2 separate regions of the Homo sapiens genome follow, and region 1 is linked to region 2. Evidence: fine-mapped expression QTL. A gene starts in region 2. The other region holds a variant in brackets. All regions are shown on one strand. Distances are from middle to middle. Region 1 holds the start of LOC105370408 (a long non-coding RNA gene). Region 2 holds the start of DHRS2 (dehydrogenase/reductase 2).

Region 1 (16,797 bases), 53 kb before region 2:
AAGCGATTCCCCATACACCCATAATAAGTATGGTACAATAGAGTTTTAGTTATGCTGTTCCCTGACCAAGTAGTATGTGTACGGTGGAGACACCCTTCTGTGGGTGATTCTTCTAGCATGGTTAAGGGGGGTAACAACAGCAAAGCAATGTACAGCATATTCATATCCAGCAAGGACAAAAGAGGTCCTTACCTGGGGAAGAAGATTGAGCACAGCGACGGAACAATAGTAAAACAGTATTACAGGAAAACTACTAGTCCTAAGATTTCTAACTACATTTACTTGCTTGACAAGTCCTCAAGCTTCAGCTGTGCATAGACTAGTCAGCTTCTGGTGTGTGACTAGAGCAGAGCTTGTTGTTTCCTCAAGCTTCACCCGTGTGTAGACTGGTCAGCCTCTGGAGTGACCAGAGCAGGGCTGTTGTACTCAGCAGCAACTCAGTCTTGTCACAAGATCAGCCGAGTCAAATGGTCTGGGTCCTGCTGGCTGGTTCACTTGTCCTGAGCTGCCGGTTTCAGCCAACTGTGGTGGATCCAAGACACAACAGCTGCAACTTTAACAGCAGTGGGAAAGGACAAGATTACTGTATGGGGCCCATCCCACATGAGTCTTAGAGAAGTTGGGTTCTACTTTTTAACCTAGAGTTACCAGGTTTAAAGGGGTATCAGGTTTTTAGGCATTTTTTTCATGTACCTAATTATGAACACTTTGCATGGCTATTTCTGCATTTGTTTTCTTAAAGTTAATTCCCCTAGTTCCTGGAGATCATCTTTAATTTGACTTATGATTTGGGGGTGGCCCACCGAACAAAATCTCATAGGGTAAATACCCAGTTTGTTTGGTGGGGGTGCACCTGACTCAGAGGAGGACCATAGGCAAAACCTGATCCTATCTCAGATGAATTTCCTGGCAATATTTCTTCAGTAGCTGCTTGAGTGTCCGGTTCGTGGTTCCACTTTTCCTGAACTTTGTGGCCGATAGGCTGTGTGTAACTTCCATTTTATTTTTAACAGTCTTGTTAAATCTTGCACTATTTCAGCTACAAATGCTGACCCATTGTCTGACTTTAAAGTTAGAGGCAGTCCAAACCCGGGGATAATGTCTCTTAACAGTACTTTAGTCACTTCTCGTGCTTTTTCTGTCCTAGTGGGGAAAGCCTCACTCCATCATGAAAAAGGTGCAAATAAACACTAGCATATACTGCCAGCCTCCAGCATGGGGCATTTCGGTAAAGTCTATAAGCAAGTTTTTCACAAGGCATGAAGGCATGGCTCCTTCTCAGTTCAGTGTCCCAGAGGAAGGATACTTTTTCTTCCCCCGACCCAACCTTTGTAACTTTATATAGTGGCTTAGCCATCAGTGAGAAATTTGGGATCCAGATGTGGCAGAATCCTGCTGCCTTCAACTTCTAATGTGACCACGGGATCCTGGAGGCTTAATGAAAAGGAGCCTGGTCTGTCCTAGTCCTCATACCCTTCAGCTCTTGCCAGCCCAATCAGATCAGTATCTGGTTCCTCTAACGTGCGGCAGCCCTTGGCCAATGACTTCTTTATATCACAGCATTTACCACTCTCTTTATTACCTTCTGGACATTCATCCTTCCCGTGTCCTTTCTTTTTGCATCCCGCACATTAATCTCTTTCTAGCCTTGTCTGGCTCTTGAATCTCTGCCTAACTTGACCGCTTCCACATCCACATTTGCGTCCACGTCCTCTCACATTGCTAATCTCTCTATAAAGACTGCTGCCAACAGATTGGCCTTTTTCTTAAGCCTTCAATCTGCTTCCTTTTTCCTTCCTGAGTTCTCCTGTTCCTAAGGCCAGCGGGCCAGGCAATGACACCGGCCCCGCCCCCACGCACACACTGCCGTAGGTCTCTCCTGTTTCTTTCGGATTTCTGTTTTTACTTTCTTCTTTCCCTTCTCACATTTACTCTTTTGGGCTGGGTGGGGTCTGCACAACCGTAGTCCCCCTGGGCCATCATTGGCCCAGAGGCTTGGGAGATGCCTGCCGCAAAATGTCAGAATTATGCCCTTCCATCTCCTTTGCTCTTCTCCCGGTGCTGGTCCCCCCCTCCCCCCTCTTTTTCCAGATAGAGCCGGGCTGGGGAAAGGGGCTTAACCCTTGGCGTGCCTAGCTGCCTGGCACCACACTTGTTGCTTTTGCTCTTTTCTGTTTTGTTCTCTGGTCCTGATTAACGTACACTGAGTGGCATTCATGCCTGCAGCTTCTGCTTGATGTTACCCTGGGCTTGCCCTTCCAATGCTGTGTTTACCATGTGCTGATTTTCAGCAGCCTCAGGGTGAAATGGGGTGTAAAACCAGAATACTTCACAAAGTCTCTGTAATACTTCACAAAGCCACTGACTTAGGCTCTCATCACCTCCCTGAAGCACTTTTGAAATCTTCCCTATATTAATTGCTTTCTATCAGCTCTTATCCCTTGCAAAAGCGACCTTTTGGTACCTCTGCAAACGCTGAAGTTGTGTTGCATCCACCAGGTCCCAGTTGGGATCTTGGTCTGGGAACTGACTCTGAGCACGTACCTGAGCATTCACTGCATCTTCTGGTGCATTGGCTTCTAGCCAGCAGAGAGCTGCCTATGTTACTCTCCTGCACTCCTCAGTGTTAAATAATGTGAGGAGGAGCTGCCTGCAGTCTGGCCCGGTTGGATTGCATGTCAGAAAGATGGATTGCATCAGATCTGTAAGAGCTTGGGGCTTCTCCGTGTAGGAGGGAATGTGGCATTTCCAGTTTAAAAGATCAGTGGTTGAAAAGGGCTGGTAGATGAAAGTTCATTGCCCCCTTGAACCTGGCCTTGATCATAATAATAGATGGGTCCTCGCACCTCCCTGAGAGGCATTTGCATAGCTCAAGCACAGCCAGATCTGAGACTGCCTGCTTGACTATCTTGACTTCCTTCCCTGGCCTCTCGAGGCTCCGATTCTGCCCTTTGGGGTGAAACTTGGGGTGTGTTAGCTCCTGAATCTGGTTCCTGGGGGGCTGTTAGCCTTGGCAAAGGGGGGTAGGCTGGGACGAATCTCTGTTCCCTCTGGCAGCTCCTGCAAAACTGGCTTCTCTTGCTCTCTCTGGAACTTCCCCTTTAACTCTGTGTCTGCCAGTGAAGCTGCTAAATAGGGCTGGATCCAGGCTGCTCTTGTCTGTGCTATATTTAACCATGAATCAATTTAAGGAAATTTGTCTGGGTACCCTGGCTGTCCTCCAAGCCCTGTCACCACCTTAAATGCACAGCCAATTATCCCTATCTATAGTTCTTTCAGTCAGCCACCCAACACCAAAAGAAGGCCACTCTAATTCACAGAGAGTTCTCAATCTTTGGGGGTTTAGCTTAAGTCCATAATCCCTTGCAAAATCTTTCTTAAGGTTCTGTAACATGTACTCCAATGGAGTAACTTTTGATGACTTTCCTCCCATTCCTCCCTTTACGACACAGCACAATCACTCTTGCACACTCACTGTTCCTCTCATTTCGGCCGAATATACCATCTCCTATTATGGGAGTTTTCAGATGCTGCTTGGCTTTGCAGAGGTCCTTATTCTCACTGCAACTCTGAGCTATGGGGCAGCTCCTATTAGCCATATGCAGATCACCACTAGTCTTAGTTGGCCCCACACGTTCTTGGAGGATACAGTCCATGCTAAGAGATCTGTGACTCCCCACTTCACAGCTGATGAGCCTAATTAGGCCCCTCCATTCACACACTTCCACACACTTCCCCACTCCCAGTTCCCGTGTTTGTAATTGGGGTGGCAAGCCACTCTCACCCCCTCTACTTTCCCAGTTGGGGTGGTGAGCCACTCTTGCCACCTCCAGTTTCCTAGTTGGGGTGGCGAGCCACTCTTACCATCTCCAGTTTCCTAGCTGACTTAGCGAGCCACTCTCGCATCCTGTGTCGACTGGGGTGTGAGATTCATCCGAATTGATGAGCTACTCCTGTTGCCCCCAGCCCCTCTGGGTCGAACTATTCGGCACATCCCAGGAGGTGATTAGGCTCCCCTTCCATCCCCATGGGACAGGTCCTGCCTTGGGCCCTAAAACCTTACCGCAGTTCCTGAAGGGTGCTGTTTCTGAAATTGTCCTGTAGCTCCTTTCAGGTTCCATTGCACTGCTGGGTAGGGGCGCCGGGTCAGGGGAGAGCTGATTTCCTCTCCGGGCTGAAGTTCTTCCAGTGGTACCTGGGGTCACAGGTCTCCTGAGGCCCAGGGCTCCAGCGCCCAGAGCCAAAGGAAACAGTAAACCTGCTGTCTCTGGTCCTTTTGTGGTCACCAAAAATGTTGCAGGAAACTGAGGACCAGAGAGACTGATATGAGAGTACAGAAGGATTGTTCATTGTAGGTACACGCCAGCTCAGTGGACTCACATCCAAAAAGCTGAGCATTAAACAAAGACAGAGACAGGTTTTTATAAGCAGACTTACAATAAATAAACCCAAACGTTTATCAAATATGATAGGTCACATAATCTATAGCATAGCATAACTTGTGGCCTTGCATAGCTGGTGGCCTTGTAGCTGCATTGAAAGAAAAACAACAAGTGGCTAAATACAGACATTTGTAAAACATAATCATGCTTAAGAAGCCTGGGAAAGGAGTAACAGTAAAAGAATTTGTCTTTCTTTTTTTTTCCTTCAACCTTGCTCTGGAGCTGGGGGGTGTCTGGGGTCCATTCCTTTGGCCTTGGCTTCTCAAACAGTATTATCTTATAACTGTCCTTGAAGTGAGCTTGCTGCACTTTCCTCTGCTAGGCAGAGGAAAACCTGTTTTTTTCTTTTTAACCCTTGCCTTGCCTGTTACTTTCAGAGTGAATGAATGCATATTTATTTTTAAATTTCTGCCTCAATAGGAGGGGGTGGGGAAAGAAGAGAACTCCTCACAGTCAGATTTATAAGGCAGTGGGAGAGGCCAGATAATTATTTCTGTCTCCTCTACAAAGAGGGAGAGCGAGGTGGAAAAGGAGCAGGCTTAAGAAGACTGTCCTGGGCTGAATTGTGTCTATCTGCCAAAGCCTAACCCCTGCCACCAATTCATACATTGGAGTCCTAACCCCAAGTACCTCAGAATGTGACGTATTTGGAGGTGGGGTCTTTAAAGAGGTAATGATCGTTAAATGAGGACATTGAGGTGGGCCCTAATCTAATATAACCAATGCCCTTATAAGAAGAAGAGATTAGGATGTAGACACACATGAGGAAAAACCATGTGAAGACAAAGGGAGAAGATGGCCATCTAGAAGCCAAAGAGAGAGGCCTGAGAAGAAATCAACCCTGAAAACACCCTGATTCTGAACTTCTATCTTCCAGAACTGTGAGAAAATAAATGTATGTTGTTTAAGCTACTCAGATTATGGTGCTGTGTTATGGTAACCTGCTATGGTTTGAATGTGTCTCCTAAACTTTATTTGTTGGAACCTAAATCCCCAAATTCATATGTTTATGGCATTTGGAGGTGAGGCATTGAGAGAAAATTAGGATGAGATAAAGTCATCAAGTTATGCCTCCATTATGGGACTGGTGGCTTTATAAAGAGAAGAAAAAAGACCTGAGCTGACATACTGTTGCCCCCCTGACAGGTAATCCCCTCTATCTTTTTATGATGCAATAAGAAGGCCCTCGCCAGATGTGGCCCCTCAAGCGTGGACTTCCCAGCCTCCAGAACTGGAAGAAATAAATTTCTTTTTAAAATAAATTACTAGTCTGTGGTATTCTGTTAATAGCAATAGAAAATGGATTAAGACAGAGCTTTAGTTGGGCCAGGCATGGTGGCTCACCCCTGTAATCCCAGCACTTCGGGAGGCCAAGGTGGGCGGATCATGAGGTCAAGAGATTGAGACCATCCTGGCCAACACGGTAAAACCCCGTCTCTACTAAAAATACAAAAAAAATTAGCTGGGTGTGGTGGTGCATGCCTGTAGTCTCAGTTACTTGGGAGGCTGAGGCAGGAGAATGGCTTGAACCTGGGAGGCAGAGGTTGCAGTGAGCTGAGATCTCATGACTGCACTCCAGCCTGGTGACACAGTAAGACTCTGTCTCAAAAAAAAAAAAAAAGACAGAGCTTTAGCAAACTAATACAACTGGTGGTTTAAATATGTGTTGATGGGGAAGGGAAGTGGTCCTGAGTAAGATCATGTGGAAAAGGTGACGAGTGATATCAAAAGTCAATTTACATTAAAAGCCAAATTTGTTAAGTGAATTTCTACAACTTTCCACAACTTAGCTATGGAAGAAAGGACATTTGGATTGATCAGGCACAAATATTCTCCCAACAGTGTACAGTGAAAAAGAAGTGAGGAAAGCAATTAAAGAACTTACAAGACAGTAACTGAAGGGATATATTGTGCAGTCTAGGCTATATAAAGAAGGAAATAAAATGAGAGAGGGATTTACAGATTAGGACAATACAGAGAGGTCAGGGAACAAGAATTCTCTGTAATGTTGAAGAGCTGATGTAAAAGGAAATAGAGCAGAAACCAGTGGAAAAGCAAGAATTCGTGGCCAGAGAGTAGGATGTATACATTTAATATTTCAAGATAGAAGGGACCTGGGTGATGACAAGTCTAAGTCACCAACACAATTGGAAGTGGCTGAAGTGAAGTTGAGCTGAAGCTCACTGGAACTGAGGATGTCAAAAAATCATAAGGCTAAATA[T/C]TAAATTAGTTGAACAAACAATTTACCCAGGATGAAGATAACACTTCAGGTAGGGATTCCATTTCAAGATGGCTGAATAGGAACAGCTACAGTCTGCAGCTCCCAGTGTGATTGACACAGAAGATAGGTGATTTCTAAATTTCCAACTGAGGTACCTGGTTCATCTCATTGGGACTGGTTGGACAGTGGGTGCAGCCCACAAAAGGCAAGCCAAAATAGGGCAGGGCATCACCTTACCCGGGAGCACAAGAGGTTGGGGTATTTCTGTTTCCTAGCCAAGGGAAGCTGTGATAGACTGTACTTGGAAAATCAGGATACTCCTGCCCAAATACTGCACTTTTCCAATGGTCATAGCAAATGGCACACCAGGAGATTATATCCTGCGCATGGCTTGGCAGTTCCCATGCCCATGGAGCCTTGTTCACTGCTAGTGCAGCAGTCTGAGATTGACCTGCAAGGCAGCAGCCTGGAAGGGGGAGGGGTGTTTGCCATTGCTGAGGCTTGAGTAGGTAAACAAAACAGACAAGGAAGCTCAAACTGGCCAGAACCCACCGCAGCCCAGCAAGGCCTGTTGCCTCTGTAGATTCCACCTCTGGGGGCAGGGCATAGCTGAACAAAAGGCAGCAGAAACTTCTGCAGACTTAAATGTCCCTGTCTGACAGCTCTGAAGAGAGCAGTGGTTCTCCCAGCACTGTGTTTGAGCTCTGAGAATGGACAGACTGCCTCCTCCAGTGGGTCCCTGACCCCTGTGTAGCCTAACTGGAAGACATCTCCCAGTAGGGGCTGAATGACACCTCATATAGGCAGATGCCCCTCTGGGATGAAGCTTCAAGAGGAAGGATCAGGCAGCAATATTTGCTGTTCTGCAATATTTGCTGTTCTGCAATATTTGCTGTTCTGCAGCCTCCACTGGTGATACCCAGGAAAACAAGGTCTGGAGTGGACTTTCAGCAAACTCCAACAGACCTGCAGCTGAGGGACCTGACTGTTGAAAGGAAAACTAACAAACAGAAAGGAACAGCATTAACATCAACAAAAAGGACATCCACACCAAAACTCCATCTGTAGGTCACCAACATCAAAGACCAAAGGTGGATATGGACAGAGGAAGGGGAACATCACACACCGGGGCCTGTTGTGGGGTGGGGAGAGGGGGGAGGGATAGCATTAGGAGATATACCTAATGTTAAATGACTAGTTAATGGGTGCAGCACACCAACATGGCACATGTTTATATATGTAACAAACCTGCACGTTGTGCACATGTACCCTAAAACTTAAAGTATAATTTAAAAAAAAAAAACCACAAAGATGGGAAGAAACCAGAGCAGAAAAGCTCAAAATTCTAAAAACCAGAGCAACACTTCTCCTCCAAAGGATCACAGGTCCTCTCCAGCAAAGGAACAAAGCTGGATGGAGGATGACTTTGATGAGCTGACAGAACTGGGCTTCAGAAAGTCGGTATTAACAAATTTCTCCAAGCTAAAGGAGGATGTTTGAACCCATCCCAAGGAAGCTAAAAACCTTGAAAAAAAATTAGACGAATAGCTAACTAGAAGAAACGGTGAAGACAAGACCTTAAATGACCTGATGGAGCTGAAAACCAATGCATGAGAACTACATGACGCATGCATAAGCTTCAATAGCTGATGCGATCAAGTTGAAGAAAGAGTATCAGTGATTGAAGTTCAAATTAATGAAATAAAGCAAGAAGAAAAGAGTAAAAAGAAATGAACAAAGCCTGCAAGAAATATGGGACCATGTGAAAAGATCAAATCTACATTTGATTGGTGTTCCTGAAAGTGACGGGGAGAATGGAACCAAGTTGGAAAACACTCTTCAGGATATTATCCAGGAGAACTTCCCAACCTAGCAAGGCAGGCCAACATTCAAGTTCAGGAAATACAGAGAACACCGCAAAGATGCTCCTCAAGAAAAGCAATCCCAAGACACATAATTGTCAGATTCACCAAGGTTAAAATGAAGGAAAAAATGTTAAGCGCAGCAAGAGAGAAAGGTCAGGTTAACCACAAAGGGAAGCCCACCAGATTAACAGTAGATCTCTTGGCAGAAACTCTACAAGCCAGAAGACAGTGGAGGCCAATATTCAACATTCTTAAAGAAAAGAATTTTCAACCCAGAATTTCATATCCAGTCAAACTGAGCTTCATAAGTGAAGGAGAAATAAAATCCTTTACAGACAAGCAAATGCTGAGAGATTTTGTCACCACCAGGCCTGCCTTACAAGAGCTCCTGAAGGAAGCACTAAATGTAGAAAGGAACAACAGGTACAAGCCATGGCAAAAACATGCCAAATTGTAAAGGTCATCTATGCTAGGAAGAAACAGCATCAACTAACGGGCAAAATAAACAGCTAACATCATAATGAGAAGATCAAATTCACACATAACAATATTAACCTTAAATATAAGTGGGCTAAATGCCCCAATTAAAAGACACAGACTGGCAAATTGGATAAAGAGTCAAGACCCATCAATGTGCTGTATTCAGGAGATCCATCTCACATGCAGAGACACACATAGGCTCAAAATAAAGGGACAGAGGAAGATCTACCAAGCAAATGGAAAAAAAAAAGCAGGAGTTGCAATCCTAGTCTCTGATAAAACAGACTTTAAACCAACAAAGATCAAAAAAGACAAAGAAGACCATTACATAATGGTAAAGGGATCAATTCCCTTTACCATTCCAACAAGAAGAGCTAACTATCCTATATATATATGCACCCAATACAGGAGGACCCAGATTCATAAAGCAAGTCCTTACAGACCTATAAAGAGACTTAGACTCCCACACAATAACAATGGGAGAGTTTAACACCCCACTGTCAATATCAGCCAGATCAACGAGACAGAAGGTTAACAAGGATATCCAGGAATTGAACTGAGCTCTGCACCAAGAAGAACTAATAGACATCTACAGAACTTTCCACCCCAAATCAACAGAATATACATTCTTCTCAGCACCACACCACACTTATTCCAAAATTGACCACACACTTGGAAGTAAAGCACTCCTCAGCAAATGTAAAAGAATAGAAATCAAAACAAACTGTCTCTCAGACCACATTGCAATCAAATTAGAACTCAGGATTAAGAAACTCACTCAAAACTGCACAACTATATGGAAACTGAACAACCTGCTCCTGAATGACTACTGGGTACATAACGAAATGAAGGCAGAAATAAAGATGTTTTTGAAACCAATGAGAACAAAGACACAATGTACCAGAATCTGTGGGACGCATTTAAAGCAGTGTGCAGAGGGAAATTTATAGCACTAAATGCCCACAAGAGAAAGCAGGAAAGATCTAAAATTGACACCCTAACAGCACTGAGAGGCTGAGGCACGAGAATTGCTTAAACCCAGGAGGCAGAGGTGAACCAAGATTGCACCACTGCACTCCAGCCTGGGCAACAGAGTGAGACTCAGTCTCAAAAAAAAAAAAAAAAAGAAAAAGAAAAAAAGAAAAGAAAAGAAAAGAAAAGAAATAAAACATTACAAATTGAATAGAACCTCCACTTTGCGCTTCTTCCAGATCCATTCTCCTCTCTCTGCCCTCCCCAGAGGTGGCTGCTGTTCAGAAGTTGTATATATCCTTCTTGTTCATGTTTTGTACATTTTACTACATATGCATTCATAAATCATATGTATTGTCTTATTTGTTTTTAAACTTTACCAAAGGTGGTGTTATCACATTGTACTTATCATTATGCAACTTACTGATTTTTAGCAACCTTGTTTTTGGAACTGAACCACAACATACGCATCTCTAGTTCATTCACTTGCACCAGCATAGAATATTCTCATTGTGTGACTAAACACAATCTACTTACCTACTTTCCTGTTGACGGTCATTTAGGTTGTTTTAATTTTTATCTATTACACATAACGCTGCCATAAGTATCCTGTGCATATCTCCTTGCACCACACATGTGTGAGCTTTTCCCAGAGTTTATATCTGGGAGGAAGAAGCTGGGTCAAAGATCACATGCATCTTGATTTTTACTGTATATTACCAAATTTGTTTTCCAAAGCCATTGTAGCAACTTACACTTGTATGAAAGCTCCTATTCCTCCATATCATTCCTAATGCTGGTGCTTTCAGACATTTTCATCTGTGTCATTCTGGTAGATGTTAAAGAGCATCTTGTCTTGCTTTGCATTTTCTTGATTAGCAGTGAGGTTGATCCTCTTTTCCTGCTGGGTCATTCAGGGTTCCTCCTCTGTAAATTGCCTGTTCGTTCTCTGTCCATTTCTTATTGGGTTGCTTGCTTGTTTCTTATTTGTTTTTAAGGTATTTGCATATTCTGAACCTACTCCTGTTTTGGTAGGCTTTGCTCATTTTACTTCTACTTTTTGCGGTCATCTTAAGACCTCCAGGTTACCTACCATTCCTCATTCCTTGAAGATTTTAGCACCTGGGTCATTGTCTCTTTCTAGGACCAGATCTGTCTCAATTATTAGTGACTTCAACATTCATAAGCATGATCTTCTTAGTTCTTTGACCCCTTCATTCCCGGTGATCCTATCCTCACCCTCCTCCAAGCCACCAACTTCCACAGTCATGCGTGAGACCTTGCCATTACCAACAACAGCATTCTCCCCATTACCTTGAAAGAAGCATCTCACTCTTTCACTATGGCTTCTCATCTTTCAGCATCCTCCCTCCAATAGCCCAGTTTCAAAATTCTTCAAACCTAATGGAACCTGCTCGCTCTCCACTGACCTGTCACTTTGCACATCCGTCACCCCATTCGTGTCCTCACCTTCTATATAACTGAGCTTAATTCCACCTTCCATCATGAGAGTCTCTTATCTGTATGTGTAGTTGTTCCCTTGCTCTTCTCTTCCTCTCTTGGACTTTTCCAGGAAAAAAAAACCCAAAACTGGAGAAACGTAGCTCTCTGTTTACTCTCTAATAGCACACAAGCAAATGATATTGACTAGGGAAAAACACACAAGCATGGTGAAGGGTCTTTCTTTAAATTCATGACCACTGACCTTAGGAAGGTCTTTAGTGCTGCCCTTCAATCTTGCTTCACTTCCCTGGTCAATTCACTCTCTTATACTCTTACAGACAATTATCTTATAACTTCTCTTTTCTCAAACTTCCAACACCTTCTACTTCCTCACTTAGCTGATGGCCTTGTTTCTTATTGCACTGAGATTGTAGAAGCAATCTAAAAAGTATTACCAATCCCTTAAACAGTATTACCAATCCCTTACATAGGTTCCAAATTCTCTGCTTTTCTTTCTAGTACAGTGGATAAACTGTCAGTGCTCCTGTGTAAAACCAACCTTCCATTTTTTTCCCTGGGTCCCATCCTTTCTCACACCTCCTCAAGGTTATTGTTCTTTACTGGATCATTCCCATCAGCATGAAAACACTCTGTATATTTTCTATATTTAAAAACCACAATCCCTTAATATATGATGCCCTCAAGTACCATCCCATTTTTCTCCCTCATTCTACAGAAAAACTCTTCAAAAAGATTATCTGTGTGCACGCTCTCCACTTACTCTTCTCCTGTTCTTTGTTGCACCTACTCCAAACAGCCTTTCATCACCACTGCCCTGAAACTATCATTGAGGTCACAGATAATCTGTGCTTTGCTAAATCCAATGATAAATGCTCAATCTTCACCCTACCCAGCCTCTCAGCAGCATTTGACATATTCGCTTGCTCCTTCTTGACACACCTCCTTCTCTTTGGTTCTCTTCAAATCTCACTGAATGCTTCTTCTCAGTCTCATTCACTGGTTCCTTCACTTTCCTCCCAACTCTAAAATTGGAGTATCCCAAGGCCCAGTCCTCAGACCCTTCCTCTGTAAATACTAACCCACTAGGTGATGTCTTCCAGCCCTATGGTTTTAGATACCATTTATTAGACCGACCACTCTCAAATTGCTATCTCAAGCTCCACCCTCTTTCCTGAACTCCAGACTCATATACTGTTCAGCTGCCTACTTGATGTCTGATAAGTGTCTCTAACTTAACGTGTTTAAAACCAAGCTCTTAATGCTCTACGGCAAGCCTGTTCCTCCCATAGAGTTCACCATCTTATTAAAAGTTACCATTGTTAGCCCAGTTGCTTAAGCCTCAGAGTCGCCACACCTTGGCTTCTCCTCTTCTCTCACATCCCACGTCAGCAAATTATATCTTCTCTACCTTCAAAGTATATCAGAACACTTGATTAACATCCACTTCTTACCACCTCTACCCCTGTCACCTCATCCCTTACCTGGGCTATTGAAATAGCCTTCTAACACAACTCCCTGCCCCTTCACCCTTGCACCTTTCCAATCTACTTTCCGCACAGTAGCTAGAGTAATCCTATAAACTGCACTCATATCCTGTCGCTCCTTAGCACAAATCCTCCCATGATGTGCCATGCCCTTTAGATGTCCTTGCCATGGCCTTCAAGGCCCTGTGTCCCCTGGCCTCACTACTTGCTCTTTTACCTCATCTTCTACCACTCCCTTCTCCCCGATCCCAGCCACACTGGCCTTCTCGCTGTTCTTCAAAGGCCAAGTACTCTCCGGCCTCAGAGCAATTGTTCAGCTGGTCTTTCTGCCTGAAAATTTCTTTTGCCTGAATATCCACGTGCCAAACTCCCCCAATTCCTTCGGGTCTCTCTTCAGGTGTCACCTATCAGGACAGCCTTCACCAACCACCCTGTATAAAGTAGCAAACCCACCTATGATCACTTCCTAGTCCCTTACCCTGCTCTATTTTTCTCCATGGCACTTATCATCACCTGACATGTTACATATTTATTTGTTTACTGTTAACATAAACCATCACTAGAGCAAGGACTTTGTTTTATTCACTGCTCTGTCCTTAATACTAGGCCAGTGTGTAACAGCAGCTCAATAAATATTTGTTGAATGAATGAACAAATTAATGAATTATTTTTCCTGAAAGTTTTACAGTTTTGCATTTTTCATATTTAGCTCTTAATTCAACTTTAGTTTATTTTTGTATATGGTTTAAAGTAGGAATCTTAATTTATTTTCATGTGGAAAACCAGTCATGTGGTTATCATTTATTGACTAGTCCTTCCTTTCCTGTAATGACTTGTAACAACACTTCTGTCATTTCCCAAATTTTCATCTATGTGAGGGTCTCTTTCCAGGCTCTCTATTCCATTCTACAGGTCTACTTGTCTATCCCTGTTCCAATAACACAACATTTTATTTACCACAGGGCTATAATAAGCCAAGTACCCTCATCTTATTTTTCTTTGTCGAAATTGTTTTTGCTATTTTCAAAGTTTCCATTTTCTATATGAGTTCCATTATTTAAAAGCAACAACTGTTGAGATTTTGATCAGAATTGCATTTACTTCATTTATTAAAGTGGGGACAGATGGACATCTGTAAGCTGTTGAGCCTTCTTATATACGAAATGTCTTTCCACTTAGTCAGAGCTTCATTTTGCTCTTCAAAGATGTTTTATATGGGCACCAGCCTGAGTGACAGAGTGAGACTCCATCTCTTAAAAAAAGATAGCTTATAGTTTTTCCATGAAGATACTGAAAAAAAAAATCTATGTTCTTTTTATTCCTAGATATCTTATAGATCTTGTGAATGTTACCTTTTAAAAAAAAAAAACATTTTTAACTGGCACCGTGTTAAATGGCAACTGTATTGATTTTACATGTTGACCTTGTAGCTAGCAAACTGCAGAATTATCTAACTAGTTCTAATATATTTTCAAAAATTCTATGCATTTGGTAAATATTGAATTTTTCTCTTCTCTATGAATTCTTATGCCTTACTTTTTTTATCTCATTGTATTGACAGACCCTCCAGTGTGATGCTGGATGGTGGGGTGATGCAGGCATCCTTGTCTTATTCCTGACTTCAGTGGGAATGTAATGGTATTTACCATTAAATGGTATTTATTGTAGGTATTTGGTAGAATTTTATACTAATTTAAGAAAATTTTCTTCTAGTCTTAGTTTGCAAGTTTTAAAAATCATGAATAGATTTAAAACTATATAGAAGAAAATTTTGCATCTGTTAAATGATTGTATGGATTATTCCTTTGATCTGTTGGACTGGATTATGATGATTAATTTTTGTTGGTGAACATTCCTTGTATTCTTGGGATAAACCCTTCATGGCCATGATTTATTTATATAAAATATATATAATATATATACTACTGTATACATACTATTACAACTTCATGATTTTTGCATCCATGTTCACCAATGAGATTAATCTATAATTGTCCTTATCCTGGTTTAGAGTTGTTTATTTAAAAATGAGATGGGAGGCGTTCTGCTTCCACTTAGGATGTACGAAGCCACAAGAGAACATCACCCTCACCCTAGTAATGAAAAAATATAGACAATCTGCAAAATTGTAGCTTTTCTTCAGTCCATCAGAGAGTTCAGGCCACTACGTGAACTGAGTTCCAAAGAGTGGTGACAAGACCCTCGGAAGAAAGACATGGCACATGAGCAGCTTCCCTTTGGTCAAAGCGTGGGAGGAAGAGGTGACTGCCATAAACGTGAGAAGAAAAAAGCAGCTAACATTCTAACATTTTCGTGAATTATTAAAGGCCAGGATGGACTATCGCAGCAGTTTAGAACAGGGTTTCTCAGCTTTGGCGCTATTAACATGCAGGATAATGATTTGTGGTGGAAGGCTGCCCCATGAATTGCAGGACTTTTAGCAGCAGTCCTGGCCTCTACCTACCAGATACCAGTACCACAGCCTCTCCCATTTGTGACAACCAAAAATATCTTCAGACATTGCTAAATGTGCCTTGGGGGGCAAAACTGCTTTTGACTGAGGACCACTGGTGTAGACGGTGGAAACCCAGGCACGGGAGTGTCTGCTGTCACTCATGAGCTCTTTTCCACGGGCTTTCACCACGTGCGAATGAGAAAGACAGGAGACAGAGGGAACCTCAAATTAAAAACCAGAGCTTGTCAGCTTAGAACCAAAACATGACCCAATGGATCTGTTGTCTCCTAGAAACTCACTTTAAATATAAAGAGGTAACTAGGTTAAAAGTTAAAAGATGGAAAAAGGTATATCATGTAAGCACTAATCAAAAGAAAGCTGGAGGAGCTGTATTAACCATCAAACAAAATAGACTTTAGAACAAAGAATATTACCAGGGATAAAGAGGAGTATTACGTAATGAAAAAAGGATCAAATTGTCAAAAAGTTGTAACTATCCTAAATGTGTAAGTGTCTAACAACAGAGCTTCAAAATAGATAATGTAAAAACTGACAAGACTAGAAGGAAAAATAGAAAAATCTGTATATTCACAGTTGAAAACTTCAACACACTCTTCTATCAGTAGTTGATAGAACAAGTAAACAGAAAAATCATTAAGTGTATGGAAGACTCAAACAACACTATTAACCAACTTGACCAAACTGACATTTATAGAACGCACCTCTCAACGAGTTTTTCCCAAGCACACACGGAGCATTCATCATGGTAGATTGTATCTAAGGCCATAAAACAAATCCCAACAAATTTAAAATTTTACAAATACATTCTCTGGCCTCAACAGGATTAAACTATAAGTAAACAACAAAGATATTTAGAAAATCCCTAAATATCTGGAAATTAAACAACACATTGCTAAGCACTCATGCATAAAAAAGAAGTCACAAGGGAGATTAGAAAATATTCTAATTAAATGAAAATGAAAACATAATGTATCAAAATTTATGGAATGCAAATAAGCTGAGCAATTCTCTCTCTCTCTTTCCTCCAAAAAAGCTTGTATGAAAAAATGATGACCCAGGCCAGGCACAGTGGCTCATGCCTGTAGTCCCAGCACTTTGGGAGGCCAAGGTAGGAGGATTGCTTGAGCCCAGAAGTTTGAGACCAGCATGGACAACATGGCAAGACCCCCTCCCTAGAAAAAAAATTTAAATTATTCAGACATGGTGGCATGCACCTGTGGTCCCAGCTACTTGGGAGGTCGAGGCAAGAGGATTACCTGAGCTTGGGAAGTTGAGGCTGCAGTGAGCTGTGATCACGCCACTGCACTCCAGCCTGGGTGATAGAGCGAGACCTTGTCTCTTTAAAAAAAAAAAAATCCATTTCTGGTTTGTAAAAGACATCTATAAAACCATC
Region 2 (16,659 bases):
GGATGTCCTTGGGGGCCAGCTCCAATGCCAGTGTTCTAGTGAGACCCAGCAGCGCTGTCTTGCTGACATTGTAGACACCCAGCGCCTGGGAAGGGAATTGACAGAGTGATTAGGATATGGGAGAGTGGGGGAAAGCATCAGTTGGATTTCTCACCTACAGGGATCTCACAGGCCCAGCAGCCCTCCCACCCACATGGAGACAAGCTCAGCCCAGGGCAGCAGGAGGATGGTGGGGGTCTGTCCCAGGCACTTTGTCTGTAAGGCTCTGAGGAAAAGAACAAAGTTGCCCCTCACCCTATACCACTCAGGAGCACAAGGACCAAGCACTTACCACTACTGGATTATAAGCTGCAATGGAAGAGACCAGGATGACAGCACCCCTCCTGAGACAAGACAAACATAAGAGAAGCTGAAGCTAAGAGCTTACCACTGATGGTGACACTATCATGAGTTCATTAAATGATGCAACCCTCACAGAAGCAACACAGGTCCTATTACTGTCCCCATCTCAGAGTTCAGAAAACTGAGGCTCAGAAAGGTTTAGTACCAGCCAATACACGGCAGAGCTAGGATTCCATGCCTATTTCTCATAAATACGATGTCCATGCTCAGAACCCTTATCTTCTGCTTCCTCTCTTGCCAGGTGCTTGAAGGAGAGGGCAGGGTGGGCTTTGTGAAGAGGCACCCAAGGCTGATGGTGAGTGCCTATCAATGAGCAACCTCTAAGGAGCAGATGGGGTAAGGGAGACCAGAAGTGACAGTCAGGAACTTTCCTTCTACTGAAGACAGCCCCTGGCCAGTTCCTAAGGGTGTGTCTGTGAGGGGTACAGTCAGATCTGCAGGACCTGGAACACAGGCAGGGTCCCTGGAGACCAAGCGCAGGCATGAGGAGAGGTCTGGGACAGGCTTTTTCCTATGGAGAGGAATGGGGCTAACCCTGTCATTGGTTTTAAGTTGGTAAGAACAGAGAGCAGGTAAGGTGACAATGACCAGCCCACAAGGTCAAGGAGTTAAAGCATAGCCTTGTCCCAAACCTGCTGATGTCAAGGCCAAGGAGGCTATGCCTGGGCCCCTGGAATACTACTCTCATCCTGCAGCCACTGGAATTGGGAATGGCAGCCACACAGATGGGGAGGCAGGACAAGAAGATGAGGGATGTGGAGATCCCAGACCTCTTCTGTCCTCTACCCACTACTGGCTGTGCTACCGACTGTATTTCTGTGCCCACCTCAGGTCCCCAACTCCGACTGGTCCCCACCCCCGCCCTGCCATACCTGTTCTCCATGTAGGGCAGCAACTGGCTCAGCAGCAGGGCTGGGGACTTCACGTTCACACTTAGGATCTGAAATCAGAGCAGAGCATGGGTGAGGGCAGAGAGACATGGTCAGCCCAAGTCCTGCTCTCATAAGACACTTGGAGCCCTGTAATTTGTGCAGTAGACCCAATGTATGTGCATATAAGAGAAACCAATCCCCCTTCTGACTGGTGCAAGAGGTATTTCCAATTTGCTAATGGTTTCATAGGCAGGCAGGCTAAGTCACAGGCCTGTGAGCAGAGCCCTGAAAATGTGAATTGTTCAGGACTGACACGAGGAAGGAAATGTTCAGGCCTTTTAAAGAAAATGGGGACTGGGGGCAGTGGGTCATGCCTGTAATCTCAGCACTTTAGGAGGCCAAGGTGGGAGGATTACTCAAGGCCAAAAGTTCAAGACCAGCCTGAGCAACATAGTGAGACCTTGTCTCTACAAGATTTTTAAATAATTGGCCTGGTGTGGTGGTGCACACCTATAATCCTAGCTACTCAGGAGGCTGAGGCAGGAGGATCCCTTAAGCCCAGGAGTTTGAAGCTGCAGTGTGCCATGATCATGCCACTGCACTCCAGCCTGGGTGACAGAGTGAGACCCTGTCTCTTAAAAAGAAAACAACAACACACTGTAAGCAGAGGCCTCTGGAGAAAGACTGAAGACAGCCTGATGGAGGGGAAGCAGGTGCTAGAAGCAAGGGAGATTTCTGGAAGAGCCTTTTTTGTCTCTCTGAGCTTTCATTTGCTTGTCCTCTTACCTTGTCCCCATAGAATTTAAGGCATACTCACAATGCAACAGCATAAAATAAATCAAATAGGTACTATGTGTGAAGAAATGGAGAAAAGGAAAAATCAGTGTAGAAAAATAAGAAAAAGCAAGAGTGAGGTTGGTGCCTACAGTTCACAGCATGTGATAAGGACTGAGCATTTATTCTATTATTTGGTCATAAAAATGCAGGCTGTAAGGGCCTACACACACCAGCTTATCGCAGACTTGGCTCTGAGCTTTCCTGCAGCCAATACAAACAGGGAGACACAACAGAGAATTGCCATGCTGGGAGCTAGATGTCTATGCTGATCCTGCTTGTGACTAAAGTCTGAATCTGGGCTAAGTCACACATGTCCTGACACTCTGGAAGCTCTGTCTGGTGGGTCTGGGAACGGGGGAGAAGTGAAAGAGGAAGTAGCAAGGAAAGATGCAGAGGCGGAGCCTGGGAGCTAGGGCAGTGCCAGGTGGGACTGACATGGCACCAGGAGTCCCTCCTGCAGGGATCTGTCCTGATTCAGGTCAGCTGCATCCTGCATCTCTAGGGAATGAGACCACATCTGCAACTCACCAGGACTGTTCACTGTTTTTTCCACCCCCCAATCTCACTCCCACTCAATCCCTTGGATGTGGGAAGGAGAAATACTTAAGCTGAATGTTGCTGTGGCCCATTTGATGACAGGTTACCAGTGTGGGGGATGACCCCCAATGACTGCAAGAAGTGGTCCAGATGTCAGAAGTGGGTACCACCCTGAGGTCCCTAATAAGAAGGAATTGAGGATTAGGTTAGCTGTAAGGGTTTCCTGGTCAAAACAGACCCCAACCAGCCCACAGGATATCTGTCCAATACTCCATGTGCATCAGGCTGAGTGAGGGGCTGAGGTAAGACCCCTCCTGGACTCAGGAACAAAAACCAAGCCAAAGAAAAGGTGAGACTCCCTCCCTTGATGAAGAAAACTGCCCCATTAGAAAGTAAGAGAGAGTAGCTCAGTGTGCCAAGTAGTTCTGAGCAGAGAACTATCCATGAGCCTGAAAGAGGGCGCACGCTGGAGTCGCTGGAGAAGGATGGAGGTGATGTGGTTTTGGTAGTTTAACAGATCAGAGGTTTCCCAACCTGCTGGAAAGAAGGGGGGTCTGCCTGGAGATGGCCTCAAAACTGGCTCAAGAATAAGATGAGTGGTAAGGAATTCTCCTTACAGGACACCTACGGAAAACACATTTAGTTGAAAGCAGAGCATCTGGTAAATTCTAAACTCATTTTGTGACAATTTCACCTCTGAGGTGATGGCAGATGTGATCGGGGACGAGTCATCAATGATTTCTGTCCAGTGGTACAGAATTGCTCACTGAAGGCCAAGTCCTTGGAGAACAGGGGAGAATCAGAGAAAGTAAGGTCAGATTGTTGGCATCTGCCCTCAGCTTCAGGAGGGAGGACTGCAACAGTTTCGAGAAAAAGAGTCATGATCCTGTGAACTGAGACACTAAACAGCAAAATGATTCAGGAGGGTTAGGAGACTGTCAGCAATAAAATCCCAGCTATAAAATCACAAATGATCCTTTGGAGGCATTAACAACATAGCTAAAGAGCCTGGGGAAGCTGCTCAGCAGGGGCTGCAGGGAGCTCAAATTTCAGATCATCTCTGAGGATGTAGCCAAGGGCACCCAGCCAAGGGCAGATAGAAGGGAGGGGCCAGCCTGAAGATGATGTTGGCAAGTGAGAGTGCAGGATCTAGGGAAGGCAGAACACTCTAAGGCCAGAAGGCAGGAAACACTTTGACCCAGTGCTTAGGGCAGAGTGGTGAATGCTCACAATAGCAGAAAGAATGAGATTCATCACGACGCATTCTGGCAGAGAGAACAGAAAACAAAACATGAGAGTGAAGGGAACAGAAGTCACTGGGGAACAACTAGGCCCAAGATGAGCTTCAAGGCATTTTACAAGGTCTCTCCCGGTCCCTTGTGGACAAGGTAGCAGAATCCTTGAATGGACTTACAGCAGGCTGGGATGTCTAAGCCCCCGGAATGCTGATGGCTGGATCTGGTCCTGTCGGCAAGTTTGTGTGGGACTCAGTGAGGAGCCCCCTTCTAGGAGAGACAGTCTCCGCTACAGGCACAGGTCACCAAAGAAAAACACAGTATCCGTATCTTCCCCTACAAAAGGGTGTACCATACAAAAATGTTTGACTCTTACAGAGAGACTCTGACTAACCATTCACAGCTGTATCCCTAGAGCCTGGAATAGTGGTGCCTGGCAGACAGCAATAAATACCTGCTGAATGATTAAATGAAAAAGTGATGAGAAGAGAAAACAAAGCAGAAAGTGTGGGGGCCAGATTTAAGAACCAACAAGCCAGAAAGTAGCATCCGGGCACATTTTGGGAGACAGCTGGCCAGGCAGGACTACCACCCAGGGCCTGCTTCTCCCATAACCTCTGGAGGGAAACAGAGTCTTGGTGGGCACAGGCATGCTGGAGCCCAGTGCAGAGCTGGAATCGGGCCCTCAGCCGCCTCCCCAGGGGAGGCCTCTCACCTTGTCCCAGATCTGCTCACTGGTCCCCAGAGTGCTCCCTACCAGAGGGTTGACCCCTGCGCTGCACACCAGGAAGTCGACGCCCCCACAGTGCTCCAGGGCCTGCGGAGAGGAGATTGGATGAGTGTGGAGATGGCCTGAGGAGGACTATCCCTCCCAGGGCAGCCCAGGTCATAAGGCCTTCAGGCAAAGCTTGCAGAGCTCCTAAAGGAAAATGACCTAGGTGTCCCAAGGGCAGGCTCCTGGGGCCAGGCACTGAGAGAGGAAGGTCTGCTCCAGGAGTCCCTCTGGGGACCTCCCTCACCCCTTCAGACTCCTCCTCCACAGTGATTCTCCCCGGGCCTGGGGGTGGGGTGAGGGTCCTCTCACGAACAGGTCACTTTCCTGAGGGACCTTCTGGGTAGCGAGGTTAGCTTGGGCAGCCTGGGTGCAGTCATGGTCTCAGGACATATTCTAGACCCACCCCACAAGGGCCAAGCAGTGAAGGAAAGGTTCTGCATGTTCCCCTCTCTGTGTCCTTCCACCGCCTGCCCCCTCACCTTGGCCACCAGCTGCTCCCGGTCCTCAGCCTTCCCCACGTGGCACACAATGCCCGCCACACTCAGCCCCTCCCCCTGCAGCTTGGCCATGGCCCGGTCCACGTTCTGCTGCTTCCGGCTGCTGATGACCACGTGGGCCCCGTCCCGGGCCAGACGTCGGGCGATGGCAAAGCCGATCCTGAATGCAGAGATGGAGGGCAAAAGTCAGCCTCAGCCTCTCTCCACTGTCCTTCCTCTACCCAGCTCTGGAAATCAGCAAATAAGGCTGGGTCTTGCTTTAAAACCCTGAGTCCTTGTGGAAGCCACAAGGACCCTGTGAGGGGCCAGGACCCATGGGCAATCCAGCACTCACCCACTGGTGGACCCCGTGACCACGGCTACCCGGTTAGCCAGGACGCCCTTCCTGTCTATCCCGGTGCTGCTCATCCTCACAGAAAGCCTAGCACAGGGATGAAACCAGCCCTGGTAGCCCCGGGCAACTGCTGACAGCATAGTGGTTGGTGTCTGAGATGCTTCCTGCTGAATCAGGCCTGGGGGAAAGAATCAATTTCACTTATCACTGATGCCTCAGTGAGCATGAAGGTAATCTACCCTCCTCCTTCCTCCAGACAGACAAGGCCAGCAACAGAAAGTGGCAGAGAGTCAGGCTGGTTAGGGTAAATTTCAAACATGTGAACCTCAGGTCAGGAAAGCAATCCATGAAAACTCCTAAGCTATAAAACTGGGGAAATTATTCACAAATTAAAATGTGAGACTCAACATTCATTAGACAAGGGTGATTTTTCCATCCATTGCATAGCAAACATTGAGCACTGGCAATGTGTCAAGCACTGGGCAGTAGAGGCGGGGACACCTTAGTAAACGACAGACTCAGCCCTGGACCCCAACCATGCAGCTTCCCAGTTAAATGAGATGCCAGGCACCAACAAATAATTATACCAGTTATTAATTAACTGCTTCTGTGTCTGGAATTGGTGGGTTCTTGGTCTCGCTGACTTCAAGAATGAAGCCACGGACCCTCGCAATGAGTGTTACAGTTCTTAAAGATGGTGTGTCCGGAGTTGTTCATTCCTCCCATCCGGAGTTGTTCATTCCTCCCGTCCGGAGTTGTTCATTCCTCCTGGTGGGTTAGTGGTCTTGCTGGCTTCAGGAGTGAAGCTGCAGACCTTCGCAGTGAGTGTTACAGCTCTTAAAGGCAGTGCGTCTGGAGTTGTTCATTCCTTCTGGAGGGTTTGTGGTCTCACTGGCCTCAGGAGTGAAGTTGCAGACCTTCGTGGTGAGTGTTACAGCTCTTAAAGGCAGCGCGGACCCAAAGAGTGAGCAGCAGTGAATCAAGATTTATTGCAAAGAGCGAAAGAACAAAACTTCCACAGTGTGGAAGGGGACTCAAGCAGGTTGCTGCTGCTGGCTCGGGTGGCCTGCTTTTATTCCCTTATCTGGCCCTGTCCACATCCTGCTGATTGGTCCATTTTACAGAGAGCTGATTGGTCTGTTTTATAGAGAGCTGATTGGTCCATTTTGACAGAGTGCTGATTGCTGTGTTTACAAACCTTTAGCTAGACACAGAGTGCTGATTGGTGCATTTACAATCCTTTCGCTAGACACAAAAGTTCTCCAAGTCCCCACCTGATTAGCTAGACATAGAGTGCTGCACCCTTGCTTGTCCTCCTAGACCATGAGGAGGACCGAGAAAAATCGGATTTAGTGGCCCTTACCGACGCATTCTCGAAAACCTGTTAGAGTCCTAAGCATTCTCCTGTTAGTATTGGGAACTTACCCGTGTCCTATAAAGATGTTATGCCCCAAAAATGAAGAAGAGTAACCTGAGGGAGGGAAGGGGTCTCCAGGGTTGGAAAAGTGACACCTTTTGTCCTCACTTATATGAATAGGAAGGATACAATTTCTGAGGCTCCCCCTATCCTAGCTTCAGGAATAGCTTTTGTTAGACCTGCTTATCTGAGGAGGGATTCTAAAATTCCAGATAGTTCCCCCTACAACTGGGCTTTGGGCAAAAATTATGTCTTTCTGATTGGTGAGCCCAGGTGCCTAAAGAAGGTAACAGAGTCCTGAAATTTTTACTAGAAATCATTCTTATAAGAGAAATTAGAAAAGCACCAGAGACAGGGAGTGGTTTTTTAGAAGTGGGACTAGCCTAGGAGAAGAGAGGAGAGAGAAAGTTTGTCTGGCAGGCATTAGGACCCAGCGAGCAAGGGTCAGGATAGATAGGATAGATAGGTGAGTCTCACTTGGGCAACATGCCTTTGAGAGTTCCGCTCATGGCCGCAGGGTCAACCAACTTGTTGTGGGGACTCCGGAGCTGAATGGCTTTCCTCTCTGTTGACCCTCAGCTCAGCCCAGAAGTACAGGAAAAGCGGAAGCTGGTTCCAGGCAAAACAACATTCCCAACTCCACAGAGCCAGGGGTTGTTAGAGATCCCTTTCCCAGAAAGCCTGACACCCACGTTTTTAGTCCAGCGGCTGCGCTAGTCACTTTTAACTGGCCGACAGGTGCCCAGAATTTAGCCACCGAATTCTAAGGAAAAATAGGACAGAATAGCAAATGAAAGGGATCTGATGGTACTCACCACTTGGCGATAGGTGATAGTCTCACCGCTTGGTGATGGTCTCACCACTTGGCAATAGTCTCACTGCTTGGCAATAGTCTCACCACTTGGTGATAGGTGACAGTCTCTTCAAAGTCACCAAAATGTGTACGGAATTGATGGGTTCTTGGCCTCACTGACTTCAAGAATGAAGTTGCAGACCCTTGCGGTGAGTATTACGGTTCTTAAAGATGGTGTGTCCAGAGTTGTTCATTCCTCTCGGTGCATTCGTGGTCTTGCTGGCCCCAGGAGTGAAGTTGCAGACCTTCGCGGTGAGTGTTACAGCTCTTAAAGGTGGCACGGACCCAACGAGTGAGCAGCAGCAAGATTTATCATGAAGACCAAAAGAACAAAGCTTCCACAGCGTGGAAGGGAACCAGAGCAGGTTGCTGCTGCCGGCTCAGGCAGCCTGCTTTTATTCCCTTAACTGGCCACACCCACATCCTGCTGATTGGTCCATTTTATGGAGAGCTGATTGGTCCATTTTACAGAGAGCTGATTGGTCTGTTTTACAGAGAGCTGATTGGTCCGTTTTGACAGAGTGCTGATTGGTGCATTTACAAACCTTTAGCTAGACACAGAGTGCTGATTGGTGCATTTACAATCCTTTAGCTAGACACAAAAGTTCTCCAAGTCCCCACCAGATTGGCTAGACACAGATTGCTGATTGGTGCATTTACAAACCTTTAGCTAGACACAGAGTGCTGATGGGTGCATTTACAAACCTTTAGCTAGACAGAAAAGTTCTCCAGGTCCCCACCGGACCCAGAAGCCCAGCCGGCTTCACCTCTCAATGGCACACACTGCAGGACTTTGCGGCACCTAGCCCAGGCACTCCAGCAGCCCAGAGGGAGCTCATCCCCCAGTCAGGCCCAGCTGGCACCGGCCGGCCCACGGAGCCCCTGCTGGCCGGTGAGTGCCCTGTACAGTGTGGGCTCCTGCCGGCGCCTCTCCCTCCACACCTCCTGGCGAGCAGAGGGAGCTGGCTTCGGCCTTGGCCAGCCCCAGAGAGGGGCCCCCACAGTGCAGTGGTGGGCTGAAGGGCTCCTCAAGTGCAGCCAGAGTGGATGTGGAGGACGAGGAGGCACCAAGAGTGAGCAAGGGCTGCTAGCATATTGTCACCTCTCACTTCTAGTTGAAAAAGCAAAATCAACAGAAACTCTCATTCACTGCTGGGTAGAGGGTAAGTACAATCACTTTGGGAAATGATTTGGCATTATACGGAGAAGTTGAAAATAAAGATCTCTGACTCTGTAGAGGGAACTTGCATCCTGCAGACAGGAGGTCATGTGTGCACCAAGAGACTGTACACACAGGTTCAGAGAAGCCTGCTTAGAATGTTCCAAACTGGAAACAAGTCTGTATTAGTTTGTTTTCACACTGCTATAAAGAACTAACTGAGGCCAGGCACGGTAGCTCACACCTGTAATCCCAGTACTTTGGAAGGCCAAGGTGGGCAGATCCCTTGAGCTCAGGAGTTTGAGACCAGCCTGGGCAACAAGGTGAAACCATGTCTCTATAAAAATTAGCTGGGTGTGGTGGTGCATGCCTGTAGTCACAGCTACTCGGGAGACTAAGATGGGACGATTGCTTGAGCCCAGGAGGTCAAGGCTGTGGTAGGCTGAGATTGCACCACCGTACTCCAGCCTGGGAGAGAGAGCAAGACCCTGTCTCAAAAAAAAAAAGAACTACCTGAGACTGGGTAATTTATAAAGAAAAGAGGTTTAATTGACTCACAATTCCACAGGCTGTACAGGAAGCATGGCTGGGAAGGCCTCAGGAAACTTACAATTAAGGCAGAAGGTGAAATGAAGCAGGCAGAACTTACACAGCTGGAGCAGGAGGAAGTGAGAGCAAAGGGGGAGGTGCTACACACTTCCAAACAACCAGATCTCATGAGAACTCACTCACTATCACAAGAGCAGCAAGGGGGAAATCTGCCCCCATGATCCAATCACCTTCCACTAGGCCCCCTCCTCCAACATTGGGGATTACAATTCGACATGAGATTTGGGCAGGGACACAGACCTAAACCATATCAAAGTCTATATGCCTATTAACGGTGGAATGGATAAACAAACTGTGTTGCATTTCTATAATGGAATACTATACAATAATGAAAATGAATGAGCTGAAGCCACACTGAACAACATAAAGGAATCTTAAAAAATATACTGTTGAGTAAAAGAAGTCAGACACAAAAGAATACATATTATTTGAGTCCACAAGTTTCAACAACAGGTAAAACAATTCTATATTGCTTAAGAAGGCAAACAGGTGACAAAAATACAGAGAAATGCAGGGCAGTGATCACCACAAAAGTGAGGAGAGTGGGTATTTCCGCAGTAGAGCTGTGGGGAGGCAGTTATGATTAAGAAGGTGCAAACAGGCTAGGCACGGTGGCTCATGCCTGTAATCCCAGCACTTTGGAGGCCAAGGCAGGGGGATCACTTGAGGTCAGGAGATGGAGACCAGCCTAGCCAACATGGTGAAACCTCATCTCTACTAAAAATACAAAAATTAGCCAGGTGTGGTGGCGCATGCCTATAGTCCCAGCTACTTGGGAGACTGAGGCAGGAGAGTCGCTTGAACCCAGGAGTTGGAGGTTGCAGTGAGCCAAGATTGCACCACTGCACTCCATCCTGGGTGACAGAGGGAGACTCCGTCTCAAAAAAAAAAAAAAAAAAAAAAAAAAGAAGGGGCAAACTAAAGAGCTTCTAGCGTGCTGGCAATGTTGTATTTGATAAGCAAGTGATGCCTACATGATGTCCATGAAGATATATTATATCACCTATGTATGTGTATACTTTTTACGTATGTGTTATAATTCACAATTTAAAAGTTTAAAAGTAAAGATTACCTGCTCATGGTAAATTTTAAAATTCAAGCAGCTTAAAACTTAATTCAAAAATTAAATCCTCCAATTCCCTTCTCAGAAGAAAATTTGCCAGCATCTCAGATACTTTCTCAAAGTTGTTCTATGCAAAGGGCTTTGCTTTAAATAAGCAAAACTTTCTGATTTTAAACATTCAGTTCACAGAGGGCTTTCATGGAGTATCCTAGCCAGGAAGCAGAGGATCAGTAATGAGTGTCATGTGAGTTCCTTGAACACAGGCTCCACTCCTCCCTCTTGGGGCCCAGGGCTTGAAACACAGGAGTGCTCAATAAGGCTGGTGAGCTAATCAGGCTGGGAAAGTTGCAGGTAGATAGGACCTGCAAGACTGAGGAGGATTTTGACAGGGGCAGCAACAGGATAGATCCTCCTGTCAAGGGGAACAGGCTGAGAGGAAGAATGGAGGGTGTGGATGTCCAGGGTGTTTGGGAGAGAGCAGGGATGCCTATGTGCCTGGAATACAGAGAATGGGGGGCTCATGCCTGAGAAAGCAGACTGCAGTTCTGAATGACTCCAGCAGGCCGGTGCTGATTGAAGCTCTCTGAAGGGATGTCCGTGGAGCTGAGCCAGTTAAACCAGCCACAGACATCCAGGCTGCTGTGTGGAGACCTGTGCCCTCAGGAGGCCCTTCAGAAGGGAACGGTGTGCCTCTGTAGCTATGCGCAGATGTGAAGGCAGGGAGAGGATCTGGCATGGGAGACTCAGGTATGAAGATATATCACCATGAACTGGAAAATGCCAGGGATGCTTGTCTAGGAGACCCTCTTTCACCCAAATCCTAATTTCCCAGCTCCACATTCATGTTAGCCCAGAGGCTCCTGCCTTCCCCTATGTGGGATTCCCATTGGCCTGCCATTCCCTACTCTAATGGAAGAATCTGATGAGCTTCCTGTTGAGAGAGGGAGGGAAGGAGTGGTTCCAGCAAGGGGTTAGTTAGCAGGGCACTCAGGGACTTAGCAGTGTGCTTTTCATGTGGGACAGGACAGTGCCAGGAAGGTGAAGAGAGGCAGGCTCTGGCAGCTCTGGGCCAAGGGGCCGACAGATGTGAACTTGCAGGAGGCTCTGGCCTGGGATGACTCTGTCTACAGACCCTCATCAGTTCCAGACATGCTCTGGCCACTCCATCACCAAGGGACTCCTGGTTACTAAGCAACCCCTGCCTTACCTACTGCATCTCCCCTTGTTCCTTAGCAACTCTTGCATAACTCAGTTCCTTCGAGTTAGGGGTCTGTATCTATAAATTATAAGTGAATGGGTGCTGCTCAGGAATTGTGAAGAAACTGTCTATTAAATATCAGTCTGTACTCAGTGTCAAAATGCAGGCGACCAAATGCTTTGCTTTGGGAAGGAAGCCTTGATTTCCGATTTATATCTCTTCTGATATTGTATTTCCAAAAACAATCTTTGTAGGTCCTAGACCTCCTCCCTCTTTCCTCCCAGCTGCTTCCACTCTGCCTGCTGTTGCTCTCGCTTACTCTCTCACGCCTCTCTCCTTCCTGCAAGGTCATATTTACAGCCTTGCATTACGTGGAGACAAGGGGTTTCAGCTCCTGATTGGTCTACCTTTTCTAAACAGGACACCAGATTCTGAACATTGTTATGCCCCCCCTGGGGAACTCCTCTCCTTCTGCTGCGAGCTCAGATTAACCCCCTTTTGAGGTTGAGAGGAATCCAGTCTCCTTGGCTGGGAGGACAGCAGGAAAAAGAGGACTCGCCTTTTGTCGGGACAGGACGCCCCCTGCTGGAAGGCTAGAGTAACAGCACCTGTGAGATGTGTTCCTAGCTCAGCAAGTCTGGCTGTCCCCTTTCTGGCCTCTAACAGTTCTTACCAAGCCCTGCTTGTCTGAACTTGCCTCAATGTGGTTTGCAGGAAAGCTGACCTATTGTAAGGAAAGGCAACTCTGCCTGGACTGTTGCAGGTAAACAACCTGCAGAGATGAAGTCAGGCCTCCTCTGTCTCCCCTGCTTCCCCTTCCCATGCAAAGCCCCTCTTTTGCCTGGGAGGATGGGAAGAGTGAGCAGCTTCCAAGGCCTCTGGTTCACCCTACCCCACTCACTTATGCTTTCCCCAAAACAGTCAGCTCGGTCAGCTGCAGCAGAATTGACCACAGGTCCTGGGAGCTTAGAATGGTCCCTGAGCCTGGCACTGCCCACTCTGATACCCCTTTCCATGCTTATCAATTCAGATGCCCAAATTTGGGGGTGGGGAAGCTGAATGGGCACACCCTTAACCTAGTCCCATCTTGGAGGTGAATGGCCTTCAGCACTGGTCCAAAGAGAGAAGAGAAGGGAAAAGGAAAGGGGTGGGGGGGGTAGAGGAAGAAAACAAAGATTAGAGGAGAAAGAATGAGAGACATGGAAGAGTTAGAAATATTGAAAATCAGAAAAGAGAATAATGTAAACAGGAAATAAAATTCTAAGCTCCCCAACCAACTGAAAGCACTCCTCTGCTTGGCAAAGGGCATTCCAAAGTCAACTTAAAAAACCAGTGCAGGCCATGATGGGAATACAGGGTTGGACATGCCTCATTATACCCTCCTCCCTTTTGAGTTCAGGCATGACTGACCAGCATTAACAGTAAAATGGAGATCTTAGGGCTGAAAAAACAGACTTTTAGCAATAAGATACCAAATTCTAACCTGACTCTAGTATAGCATCACATGACAGATAGCAGGTCCTGAAAAAAACTGAAGTATTTTACATCAAAATGCATTTCTTTGACATTTTTTGAAATGGCCCTGCAAAGCTGTCTCTTGTGAGGAAAATTTACATCCTATAGAAAATCCCCTTCTCTTTCCAGGTCTTTTCCTGATCCAAGAGAGATTTAACTAAGAGTCTGGCACCTTTTAGGATCTGATAAAAAATATTTACAATCTATTATCTATGATGCCTACTACCTGGAGGCTTCATCTACGTTAACAAGAACCTTGGCTCCCACAACTCCCCTTATCTTAACTACAAACATATCTTTCTATTGACCTCAACTCTTTAGGCAGAGCTTAACCCTTTCAACCACTTGCCAATCAGAAAATCTTTAAATCTACCTGTGACCTGGAAGCCCCCACTTCAAGATGTCCTGCCTTTCTGGGCCAAAACAATGTAATCCTTACATGTATTGATTTGTGTCTCTGCCTGTAGCTTCTGTTCTCCTAAGATGTATAAAATCAAGCTGCAACCCAACCACCTTGGGAATATATTCCCAGGACCTCCTGGACCTGTGTCATGGGTCATGGTCCTCACATTTGGCTCAGAATAAATCTCTTCAAATATTTTACAGTTTGACTCTTTTTCATCAGCACTAAGGAGATATCAGCAGAAGCTGTGTGATCTTGGACAAGTCTGTTCCCCTCTTGCCTCCATCTGTATCACAGTAAAATAAGGGGTTGACTTGGGTGGTCCAAAGGACTTTGATAGCCCCAAGAGCTTTGTATTGATAATCAAAGAAGAAATAGACTGAGCTGCAGACATAGAGGCAGGAAGAAAGAGCATCAACATAAAAAGTGAACAGGAGTGAAGATGGGCAGTTCCAGTCATTATAGACCCAACCCAAGGCAGTGAGGCAAGGCAGCCCCAGCCTGAGCCACATCATGCCTGCCCTGGGCAGTGTGATGCTGGCCCAGGCTTACCTGGCTGTGCACCTGTCTGTCTGGAGTGCAGTTTGGCAGCCCTTCTGTCAGGCAGTCTGCAGCTGAGTATGAGGATGTGAGTAAGCAGCAGGCTGGATTTCAGGCACTGCAGATTCTATCTGAACAACACAAAGATTCCTGGAATTTATAGCCCCAGAATTCAGAAAGGTTGGAGGAGGGTTTCAGAAAAGGCCTCACCCACAACTTGGGAGGAAACCTAGGGGAAGTGCAGGACTTGTTGTCTGAGTAATATTCTGCAGAATGCTGCACATACCACTTAACAAGCATAACCAGCAAAAGAGTCCAGCTGCTTGCTGCTTGTGGAAAGAAGTCAAAATAATAATAGTTATGATAAGAGGGAGCAAGATGTCTTTATTATCCATGCTAGCAGGGGAAGAGTAGAAAGCAATTCCACTCTTCAATTCGTGGAGGGAACGTAGGAGTTTTCAAAGAAAGGGTTTGGAATACAGAATATGACTAATTATATAGTATTAATAATATAATAATAATTAAATTATTTAAATCATTATAACTAGGCTCAAACACATCTTTAGTAATAAAAATAGGAACCATTACAATCAACACATTTTTGCCAATGAGAAATAAGTTTATTTATTCCTGTAGCATAAAAATCCATGCTTCAGGATTCAGCAAACTCTTGGAAAGCATTTTCTGCATCCTGCTGGTTGTGGAAGTGTGTTCCCTGCAAAAAGTTGTCGAGATACTTGAAGAAGTGGTAGTCAGTTGGTGAGAGGTCAGGTGAATATGACAGATGAGGCAAAACTTCAAAGCCCAGTTAATTCAACTTCTGAAGTGTTGGTTGTGCAATGAGTGGTTGGACATTGTCATGGAAAACTGGGCCTTTTCTGTTGACCGATGCCTGCTGCAGGTGTTGCAGTTTTCAGTGCATCTCATCAATTTGCTGAGCATTCTTCTCAGAAGTAATGGTTTTGCCAGGATTCAGAAAGCTGTAGTGGATCAGACCAGCAGACCACCAAACAGTGACCATGGCCTTTTTTTGGTGCAAGTTTGGCTTTGGTAAGTGGTCATTGCTGGTTGTCATATAAAATTCACTTTTCAACTGGATAGTGGTTCACTGTTGTTGCATAGAATAAGAGAAGATGACACTTTAAAATAATAATTTTTTTGACTTTGAGTCAGCTCATGAGGTATCCATTTATTGAGCTTTTTCATCTTTCCAATTTGCTTCAAATGCTGAATGTAGAATGGTCAGCAACTTCTAGTGCAGTTGTAAGAGGATCAGCTTGGATAATTGCTCTCAATTTGTCATCAGCTTCCAATGGCCAGCCACTATACTCCTCATCTTCAAGGCTCTCGTCTCCTTTGCAAAACTTCTTGAACCACCACTGCACTGTACATTTGTTAGCAGCTCCTGGGCCAAATGCATTGTTGATGATGTGAGTTGTCTGCACTGCTTTACAACCCATTTTGAACTCAAATAAGAAAATCGCTCAAATTTGCTTTTTGTCTAACACCATTTCCATAGTCTAAAATAAGTATAAAATAAACAGCAAGTAACAAGTCCTTAGCCAAAAAAAATGCAAAGCAAGAAATGCACATTAAAATGATATATAACATAAGCGCATATATATTTTTTTTCTCTTTTTTTTTTTTTTTTTTGAGACGGAGTCGCACTCTGTCGCCCAGGCTGGAGTGCAATGGTGTGACCTTGGCTCACCGCAAGCTCCGCCTCCTGGGTTCATGCCATTCTCCTTCCTCAGCCTCCTGAGTAGCTGGGACTACAGGGACCTGCCACCACACCCGGCTAATTTTGTTTTGTATTTTTAGTACAGATGGGGTTTCACCATGTTAGCCAGGATGGTCTCTATCCCCTGACCTCGTGATCCACCTGCCTTGGCCTCCCAAAATGCTGGGATTACAGGCGTGAGCCACCGTGCCCGGCCAACATAAGCATATTTATTTAAGAATGTATTCCAATATCAAACAGCAAATTTCAACAATGCAAAAACTGCAATTACGTTTGCACCAACCTAATAATTGAGTCACTCTTCAGCTGGGAGTGCGTTCTGTCCCTGATGTAATCTTTTGTTGCACAGAGAATTCCAGAGCTTTCTGGTCCCTATCAGGATCTGAGACCTAAAGATGTTACCACTAGGGAACATATGAGTCACATTGCACCAAAGTATGTTAGCAACAGCAAATCCATATGGGTCTGCAGCAACTTCAGTTTTTGCCTCTTCAGAAGAAAGAATTCGACTGAGGGGCACAAGGCAGAGTGAGAAACTGGGGGAACTTTTTGAACAGGAGTGAAAGTTTGTTAAAAAGCTTTAGTGCAGGAATGAAAGAAAGTAAAGTGCACTTAGAAGAGGGCCAAGCAGGTGACTTGAGAGATCAACTGCCCAGTTTGACCTTTGACTTG

The links. PIP is the estimated chance that this variant, and not a neighbour inherited with it, causes the effect.
Region 1: its variant is fine-mapped to the expression of DHRS2 in liver (GTEx, PIP 0.99).

The regions. Positions count from the first base shown.
Region 1 is chr14:23,680,613-23,697,409 of GRCh38, reverse strand. It overlaps LOC105370408 (a long non-coding RNA gene), which reads right to left and starts at 4,679. Exons shown (of 3, transcript XR_943609.2): 1 at 4,438-4,679; 2 at 4,064-4,304; 3 at 1-553. RefSeq lists an enhancer at 2,516-3,032. The variant T/C (reference allele first, on the strand shown) is at 6,664.
Region 2 is chr14:23,627,835-23,644,493 of GRCh38, reverse strand. It overlaps DHRS2 (dehydrogenase/reductase 2), which reads right to left and starts at 8,130. Exons shown (of 9, transcript NM_005794.4): 1 at 7,722-8,130; 2 at 5,490-5,667; 3 at 5,138-5,315; 4 at 4,599-4,700; 5 at 1,275-1,342; 6 at 332-383; 7 at 1-85. The coding sequence starts at 5,629.